Regions from separate parts of the Homo sapiens genome. Here all the other regions are reported to be linked to region 2. Evidence: microRNA targets listed by miRTarBase, many of them from high-throughput screens and not tested one by one. Region 2 holds a microRNA gene; each other region holds the end of a gene's coding sequence. Distances are between the middles of the regions.

What was found. Region 2 holds the annotated microRNA hsa-miR-1277-5p (AAAUAUAUAUAUAUAUGUACGUAU, at 1,519-1,542, shown strand). A microRNA usually pairs through its seed, bases 2 to 8, with sites in the 3' UTR of a target mRNA and lowers its output. Matches are read on the target gene's strand: a 7mer-m8 pairs with bases 2 to 8, a 7mer-A1 pairs with bases 2 to 7 and ends in A, and an 8mer does both.
Region 1: miRTarBase lists USP51 as a target of hsa-miR-1277-5p. Seed matches in the 3' UTR shown: 7mer-m8 at 1,652-1,658.
Region 3: the mRNA of POU2F2 is a reported target of hsa-miR-1277-5p. The part of its 3' UTR that is shown has no 7-base or 8-base seed match.

Annotation. Positions count from the first base shown.
Region 1 is chrX:55,484,116-55,487,171 of GRCh38, reverse strand. It overlaps USP51 (ubiquitin specific peptidase 51), which reads left to right. Exons shown (of 3, transcript NM_201286.4): 3 at 1-2,556. The coding sequence ends at 368. Among named protein-coding and RNA genes, the nearest start is that of USP51, 4.2 kb to the left of the region's middle.
Region 2 is chrX:118,384,883-118,387,943 of GRCh38, forward strand. It overlaps MIR1277 (microRNA 1277), which reads left to right and starts at 1,512; the gene lies at 1,512-1,589. WDR44 (WD repeat domain 44) reads left to right here. Exons shown (of 20, transcript NM_019045.5): 3 at 2,458-2,532.
Region 3 is chr19:42,088,547-42,091,602 of GRCh38, reverse strand. It overlaps POU2F2 (POU class 2 homeobox 2), which reads left to right. Exons shown (of 15, transcript NM_001394376.1): 15 at 12-3,056. The coding sequence ends at 346. Among named protein-coding and RNA genes, the nearest start is that of ZNF574, 14 kb to the right of the region's middle.

The sequences.
Region 1 (3,056 bases), 63 Mb from region 2:
TTGTGGCTTGTTTTCATCTCAAGCGGTTTGAGCATGTAGGCAAACAGAGGCGAAAGATTAATACCTTTATCTCCTTTCCCTTGGAGCTGGACATGACTCCGTTTTTGGCCTCTACTAAAGAGAGCAGAATGAAAGAAGGCCAGCCACCAACAGATTGTGTGCCCAATGAGAATAAGTATTCCTTGTTTGCAGTGATTAATCACCATGGAACTTTGGAAAGTGGCCACTATACCAGCTTCATCCGGCAACAAAAGGACCAGTGGTTCAGCTGTGATGATGCCATCATCACCAAGGCTACCATTGAGGACTTACTCTACAGTGAAGGGTATTTACTGTTCTATCACAAACAGGGTCTAGAGAAAGACTAGTCTTACCAGACCACTTACTGAAAAAAAAGTAAATGATTAGGCAAGGATTTTGAAGTGACACACAGACCTACTTGGAATGGACAATGACAGTAACACCTATGTGACAGCTAGTATCTTGATATAAAGAACCTATTTTAGCATGGCCCATGGGTCTGTCGGAAGAAAAAAATGAATACTAACCAGTGACCATTCAACCTTAAGAAATGGGGAGAGGGAGAAGAGGTTGAAAATGGTCACATAAAGCATAATGAAATGAAAAGAATGCTTTAGGTGGGGACAACGGGAGTAGAAGTGTTCTGATGCTACTCTATGTCATTTGTTTTTACAGAAATATCTTGTGAAGTCAGGGAGTATTCCTTTATCAGCAAAAACTTCACAATTGGTGTTCCAGCTGTGGCTGACCAGCTAAATAGTTTGAAAGAAAAATAATATTTTAAAATAAAGTTTAAAGAGCTTTAAAAGAAAAACATTTAAAAAGGAAAAAATCATTTTTAAGATTTTAAAAGAAAAAAACTTTTAAATGTTGAAAAAAATTTAAGTTGTTATTTTTAAAAGAAATATTTTAAAAGTTAAAAATAATTTTTTAATTTAAAGAAGTTTCAGAATTTTAAAAATTAAAAGCAAAGAAAATTAAATTCTTAAAGTTTAAAAATGTAAAATAAATTAAGGAACAAGGTTAAAAATGAAAGTTTACCAAAAAAAGGAAGAAAATACTGTTAAAAATTAAAGTTAGAAACAAAGGAACATCTTAAAAGTTTCAAATGAAGGAAAATAATATAAATAGATATTTCAAAATTAAAGCATAAAATATACGTATTTAAAAAGTGTTAACAAAATTACTACTATAATGATTAAGAAATAAATTTTCAAAAATACAGAATGGAATGCAATTCAGATTTTAGAGAAAAGTTTTAAAAGAGGCAAGTTTAGAATAATTCAAGACAAAAAGACAAAATGTGTTTAAAGACAAAAATTGAAAAAATACAGGAAGAAAATAGAGACTTGTAAAATAAAAAGAACCTTAGATAAGTTCAAGAGATTTAAATGAAAACTTTAAATATTTAAATAAAGATTTAAAAATTTAAGCTTTTAAAAAGAAAAACAGTTACATAAAAATTGACCAGTGAAAAAATGTGAAAGATTCAAGTAGAAAAAATTATTAAAATTAAAAGTTTAAGAAGTTCTATTTTTTTATTTAAGCATATTAAAATACAGACGGGTATGAAAGAAATAAATGGAGGAGACAGGAATAACGACAGCGGTGTGTGAGTATATATATATATATATATTTTTTTTTTTGAGCTTTATGTTGATATATCAATATACGTTGGAAAAGGAAATAGACATTTTAATCATTATCTTACCATCCAATTGTGAAATGGCTGCAAGGCCTAAACACTAACTAACCCACCTTCCCCTCTTGAGATTCCATGCCCCATCTCATATCCTGAAGGAAGTCAAATTACTTCCTAGGCAGAATCAATTCATCTGAGAAAAATGAAAACATTAGGGACTTTCCCATTTAGAACTGCATTATTCATACAAATTCTTAGCTTCTGAAAAGGGGCTCTTGATAATTTGGTGGCTTAGAGAAGTTAGATCACAGCTGTGAAGCTCTGGCTTTGGTATTTGAGCCCCATGGCCTGATTGAGGAAGTGGCAGGGACCCATATCTGAGGCCTTCCCACCTTCCTTTTTCCCTCTTCCCCCTCCAAGGAGAAACAAGACCTTTAATTTCCACAGTAGAGCAATGGGTTTGTGCTTGCAGTCCTTCTGCTCATTCTTTATTCCCTCTTTATTTCCTTTTTTTGTCACTCATGCCTAGTTCCCTGAACCCCTTACTTACCTGGCCTTACCTACATCTCTGAGCCCCAGCCTGCAGGGCTCCTTCTTTGACTATTCACCTGGTGGCTTTTACTCCTCCTTCAAGACCCAACTCACAGATGACTTCTCTGGAGTCTTCCCTGAATGCTCTAGGCAGGTATAAATGAGAAAATTGTTCCTCTCTTCCCCTCTTTATTCCTCTCACTGTGCCTCCAAAGTACTTTGTCCATACCTCGGTGATAGTACTTATTCTACTGTGATTTTATTGTAGCTTTGTGATTGTCTGCCCCTCTGCACTGAGCATCTAAGAACAGGGGGCCAAGCCTTATTCATTTCTGTGTTAATAAATATTTGTTAAATGTGAAGATGAGTTCAGTTATTTGCTCTATTCACCTTGTCAGTAATGTTTTCTCACCCCTTCATCCATCAGGCTGCCATTAAATGCCCAGTGCTATACTACAGTGTGATCAGTATTGTATTTTACCCCAAAGCAGGATATGAAAAGCACTCAGCTGCAGGGGCTGGCTTAAGAAAGGTGCTCAGTGAGAAATAGCCAGGTGTGTGGAGGGAGGCCCAGGTACAATGCAGAGAAAAGAGCACAGGCCTGGAAGTTGGCAGTCATGGAAGACTGGGTGGGGATGAGGAGCAGCAGCTGAAGGTGAGGCTGAGCTCTCTGGCATGTGTGTGGCCACACTGCCCCTCATCACAGTGTTCCTCAGCAGCAGTGTCTCACAACTGTGTACCACACCTCTCTAGGGTTTACCACATTAGTTTACCTTCCCCGTGAGACAGTAGTACCTCATCACTGCACAGTGTTCTTCATCACACTGCACATCATCACTCTACTACAAGGGAGTGATGTCTG
Region 2 (3,061 bases):
CTCCCTAGTTAGCTGTATTCATAGGTATTTTCTTTTCGTGGCAATTGCAAATGATGGGAGTTTATTCCTGATTTGGCTCTCTGCTTGGCTGTTATTAGTGTATAATAATGCTAGTGATTTTTGCACATTTATTTTGTATCCTGAGACTTTGTTGAAGTTGTTTATCAGCTTAAGAATCTTTTGGGCTGAGACTATGGGTTATCTAGATATAAGATCATGTTGTCTGCAAACAGGGATAGTTTGACATCCTCTCCTCAATCCCATTACTGGGTATATACCCAAAGGAATATAAATCATTCTATTATAAAGACACATGCACACACATGTTCATTGCAGCACTATTCACAATAGCAAAGACATGAAATCAACCTAAATGCCCATCAATGATAGACTGGATAAAGAAAATGTAGTACATATACACCATGGAATACTATGCAGCCATAAAAAAGAACGAGATCATGTCCTTTGCAGGGCCATGGATGGAGCTGGAGGCCATTATCCTTAGCAAATCAATGCAGGAACAGAAAACCAAATACTGCATGTTCTCACTTATAGGTGGGAGCTAAATGATGTGGACACATGAACCCATAGAGGGGAACAACACATGTTGAGGCCTATCAGAGGGTGAAGGGTGGGAGGAGGGAGAGGATCAGGAAAAATGACTAATGTGTACTAGGCTTAATACCTGGGTGATGAAATAATCTGTGCAACAAAACCCCATGACACAAGTTTACCTGTGTAACAAATCTGCACATGTACCCCTGAACTTAAAGTTAAAAAAAAAAAGAAAAATAGGATAATGTGATAGAAAGTTAAGGAGTCAGCTAAGGCTATTTTGAGATGGTCAGGGAAGTATTTTCTGATAAAATAGCACTTGAGCTATGACCCTAATGGCAAGGAATCATCCTATTGGCCAGAATGTAATTGTGGGGGAGTGATATGAGAGGGAGATGAGGAGTGTAGAAGATATCAAAAATGTAGGCAGAGGCTATGTCATGTTTAGGCCTTCATGGGCCTTGGTACTGTTTGGATTTTATCTAATACTTAAGAGTCCATGAAACATTTTTTTTTTTCTAGAAGAATCTGTGTAAGATTGGTAGTATTCTCCAAATTCTGGGGGAGGAATTCAGTGCTCGAAGATATTGCAAGTCCTACAGAAATTTCACTGGCACGTTAAATCTTTAACATTTTAATAATCTCTGGAGTAATTTCATTATTGAGCCTATTGTGATCATATCCTGATACTTGTATAAGTGCCACCTAAATAATTAATGTGCCTTGAGTCCTTTATCTGTCTAAAATGGTTATAATGACCTTCCTCTAACAAACTCTGTGATGTGCACAAAGAATTATGGTTTTTTTTCCTCAGTATCAAGAGTAGCATTCAAATTGCTGTGCTTCTATAAATAGACAACTTAAGATTGAGAAGAGTATTGTATTGAGATTTGCAAATATATGATTGTCTTATTTTACCCTAATTTTTTCCAGCAGAAATGCAGTATCCATTTCTAACCTCCCAAATATATATATATATGTACGTATGTGTATATAAATGTATACGTAGATATATATGTATTTTTGGTGGGTTTAATTTTTTTCATCTTTTTTCATAGTTTTTTTAGGGGCTTCATTTAACTTCTGGTTAAGTCTTGATTTCTTTTATCTAAAGCATGTAGAATTTTAAGAAAACTATTCCCTGAATGTGGTTTTCTGTGTTATAAACTTTTGTATTTGTGCATATTTATGGAGCAATGCTTTGGGGAAAATAACAATTTTTATTCAGCCCCTTGCTTAAATCCTTAATCCTTTTTAGCTATAAAAGTACGTAGAAGTTCTTATCGTCCATTACAGTTTTTTAATGTTAAAAAGTTGAGCAAGTTTTCACATTTAAAGGTAAATATCCTATTGCAGAATAATAGAATATTGCTGATGGGTAACTTTCTTATGCAAATTACATTGTCCCATTTGGCATAAAATTTCTGAGCATCTATCAGTATTCAGAAATCTAAGCCCTTTAGGCTGGGCACAGTGGCTCACACCTATAATCCCAGCACTTTGGGAGGCTGAGGTGGGTAGATCACTTGAGGTCAGGAGTTCAAGACCAGCCTGGCCAACAAGGTGAAACTCTGTCTGTACTAAAATTACAAAAATTAGCCAGGTGTGGTGGCACGCGCCTATAATCCCAGCTACTCGGGAGGCTGAGGCAGGAGAATCACTTGAACCCGGGAAGCAGAGGTTGCAGTGAGCCAGGATTGTGCCACTGCACTCCAGCCTGGGTGACAGAGTAAAACTCTGTCTCAAAAAAAAAAAAAAAAAAAAAAGAAGAAGAAGAAATCAAAGCCCTTTAAGGGCCTTTGATTTATTAATGCTACATTTTCTCATTTGTACCCCTTTAAAGCATATTTTTAAAGAAAAGATGTCATCATTTGGTCTCTATTTCTTTTCTTTTTCAAACAGGAAACAGAGAACACTGCATACAAAGTTGGAAATGAGTCCCCTGTACAAGAATTGAAACAAGATGTGTCTAAAAAGGTTGGAAAGATACAATGTCAATATTAGTTTATAGCAGACATCATATTTATATGGTATATTTCAAACAGCTTTTATATTCTTTTAGTATAGCGCTCTGTACATGGCTGATGTTCAGCAAATGTTTCATGAATCTGTCACATTTGTGGTTGAAGACATTTCAGTCTTTTTAGAAGTCCTTTTCATATTCTAATTGGTAATTTATCCTTGAGACAATATTTTGTAAAATGCTTTTATTTTTTGTTCTTGTATTTTTATCAGAATAAGCCCTAACTCTTCTTGAGGTTACTACCAGGAGTTATGGGTATTGAAAAGCTCAGTGCAGCAACATTCTGATGTCTTTAGGAATCAGAAGTTATAAGAAGTCCTTACTCTGATAGTACCTGATACCTTTTAAAAAATTGATGCTATGAAGCTTCAAAGGTTGGTTTACTAGAAGAGACTGAGCACAAGATCAGTATTTTGAAAATGGGCAGTTTACAGTATCAGGATAAAACTCAAGGAGAAAGACAGGATGGTGTGTTTTTATTCA
Region 3 (3,056 bases), not on the chromosome of region 2:
CTCCCCGCCAGCCCTGGCCTCTGGTGGAACCCTGCCCCTTACCAGCCTTGATGGCAGCGGGAATCTGGTGCTGGGGGCAGCCGGTGCAGCCCCGGGGAGCCCTGGCCTGGTGACCTCGCCGCTCTTCTTGAATCATGCTGGGCTGCCCCTGCTCAGCACCCCGCCTGGTGTGGGCCTGGTCTCAGCAGCGGCTGCGGCTGTGGCAGCCTCCATCTCCAGCAAGTCTCCTGGCCTCTCCTCCTCATCCTCTTCATCCTCATCCTCCTCCTCCTCCACTTGCAGCGAGACGGCAGCACAGACCCCTGGAGGTCCAGGGGGGCCCGAGGCAGGGTCCAAACCTGAGTGAGGGCCAGCCATGCCTCCCCTCCCATTCCTCTGGTCCCTGCCTTGGTCCCTTGCCTGGGAAGAGGGCGAGGAGGCCAGTGGTGGGGACGCAGAGGGTCCTCAGAGCAGGAGTGACAAGGGAGGAAAGACCAAAAAAACAACCAACCAAAAAAAAAAAAAAAAAGGAAAGAAACTAACCAACAAAAGAGAAAACCAAAAATAATCACAACAGAAACCAGCTGCCCCAAAGGAACCAGAGGTGAAAAACAAACAAAAAAAAACCAAAAACAAACCAAAAAAAAAAAAAACCCACAAAATCAAACAAACCAAAAAACCAGTCGCGAGCCAGACCTCAGCGTGCTCACCCTCACTGCTACGACGCCAAATAAAAACCCCAGCCAGGGGCGGAGAAGCCTCCAGCAGGTCAGACCTCATGCCACCGAGCCCTGGCTGTGGGACCAACCCCCAACCCTGCCTCCCCCGTGGGGGCTACAGAAGGAAAAAGAGAAGATGCCAGCTTCCTAATCCCAGCCCCCAGCCCTGGGCCAGCGAAGACAGGGCACAGCCTGGGCAGATGGGCTGGGGCTTAGCACCACCCACCAAATGTTCTTTTCCAGAAGGTGAAAGAGAAAGGGCCTGAACAACCTTACACCAAATATTCAGTAGCTTCATCCAAAGGATGTACAGAATTTTTAGCATTGTGCTCAACAGAATGTGTCCCTACCATGTGTCCCCTTCTCCCCTGGCCCCCAGCTCTCCCCACCTGGGCAGGGGGTCTTGCTTTAACCTCCTCCCTCCCCCCAGCAGGGGAGAGTTCAAGGGAAGGCCTGCGGACAACTTTTCATCCCCTGTTCCTCCCTCTTTTCCCCTTTGAAGGGTGGGCTAGGCCATTTTGCCAAGTTCTAGCTCTCACAAGTCCCTCCTCAACCCTGTCACCCTCCTCTGCTCTGGAACTGACTCCCTCCCCAGCCTATGGGAAGGTGGAAATTTCAGGCAAGAGGGGATGAAGACATTCAGTTGAGGGCATTCAGTTGTCTTTTTCCATCCTGTCTGTTTCCCTGAAAAAAAAAAAAATTCATATTCCAGTGCCTATCCGTGGGATCCTTCACGTTCTTTGACATTAACCAGAAACCAAAAAGAGAACTCACCTCGCTTTTCCCACCCTGTGCCCCTCTGGTACTGGCGAATGCCTCTCCCTCCCCCCACATGCACGCACGCACACACCCCAGTGGTGGGGTTCCTCGAGATGGCATCCCCATCAGGGTCCATGTGGTGGGGACAGTGCCACAGCCTGTGGTCCCCATCTGAGAGGGCGCGGTGGTGGCCACCACTCCCACAAGACCTCCACAACTCTTGGCTGGACCCTGTGTTTGACCAGCCCCGGACACGTCTCCACTGACGACGGACAGAGGAGAGACACCACTGGGAGCCACCCTGCCCTCCTGCTATTGTGGAGGCCAACAAAGTTTTGAACCGAAAACCAAAAAAACAGAAACAAACAAACAATAAATTTAAACTAGAAAAAAAATTTATATATATATATAAACATATATATATATATATATATAAAAGGGAAAGAAGATGAGGACTCTTCAAGAATAAGATGGAACCGCGAGGCGGAGCCAAGCCCCTGCACCGGTGGTCCAGGCCCTTGTTCCCCAAGGCGGATGGAAGGACGGATGCTTCTTTCTCTTCACAAATACCTCATGGACGTTGTCTTTGGGAAAGCCGGAGGGGGCGGCTGGGGCAGGGCCTGTCCCTCGGCCAGGGCAGATGGAAGCGGGTGGGCGGGGCTGAGAGAGGGTATCAGGGACAGGGGTGAAGAGCCCCAAACTCCCCTCCCAAATCAACTGAAAAAGCTTTAAAAAAAGACAGGAAAAAAAGGAGTAAGAAAGCAAAAAGAACAGATGAAGGAAAACTTAACAACTTTTGGGTGGTTTGATTCCTCCTTTGATTTCTTTTTCGGTTCTCTTTTGTCTGACCTCTCTCCTCCCCTCCTTCCTCTCTCCTCCCCTCCTTCCTCTCTCCTCTCCTCCTTCCTGTCTCCTCTCTCTCCCTTTGCTCTCCTCTCTTCTCTCTCAATCTTGTTCTTTCTGTGTCTCTCCTCAAACCAAAGTGTTGCAGTGAAGGACACGAGCCATTGAAATCAGGGTGGGGCCTGACAGCCGTAGTGTGGCCCCTGCCCCTTGTTGGGCAGGAGCAGAGAGAGAGGAGAGCCCTGAGACCGCAGGGCTTTGGCCTGGGCAGCTTCCACTTTCTGCCGGACACTCTGAGGAGAGGCAGATGGAGCTCCAGGCCTCAGCGTTCTCTTTTTTCCTTGTCTCCCTTCTCCCACCCGGGAAATGAAACTGTTGGGCTGGGCGACGGAGGCAGCAGAGACTCGGCCATTGCAGGGGCCTCTGGGTGCCTTGTCCGGGCAGTGGTGAAGTAGCCGCCCCTCCCACCCCGGCACGATGGGGCCTGGCACCTCGTCTACCCAACCTCACCGGAATGTAAGCATCTCCGCTGAACGACTCCCTGCCCTTACCCTACCTCTGAGTTTGTCCATGTTTATTTCCTGAAGAGAGAAGGGACTGGCAAGAGGGCTTGGGCCCCAGCCCAAGGGTGGAGAGGGGGCCAAGGGCTCCTGACCAAATAGGAAGGACATTTGAGCAGAGCAAAATGAAAGGAATTACAACCAAAAACCCCCTCCGAGAAGACAGGCAGCATGGAAGGCATGGTGGAGATGACTC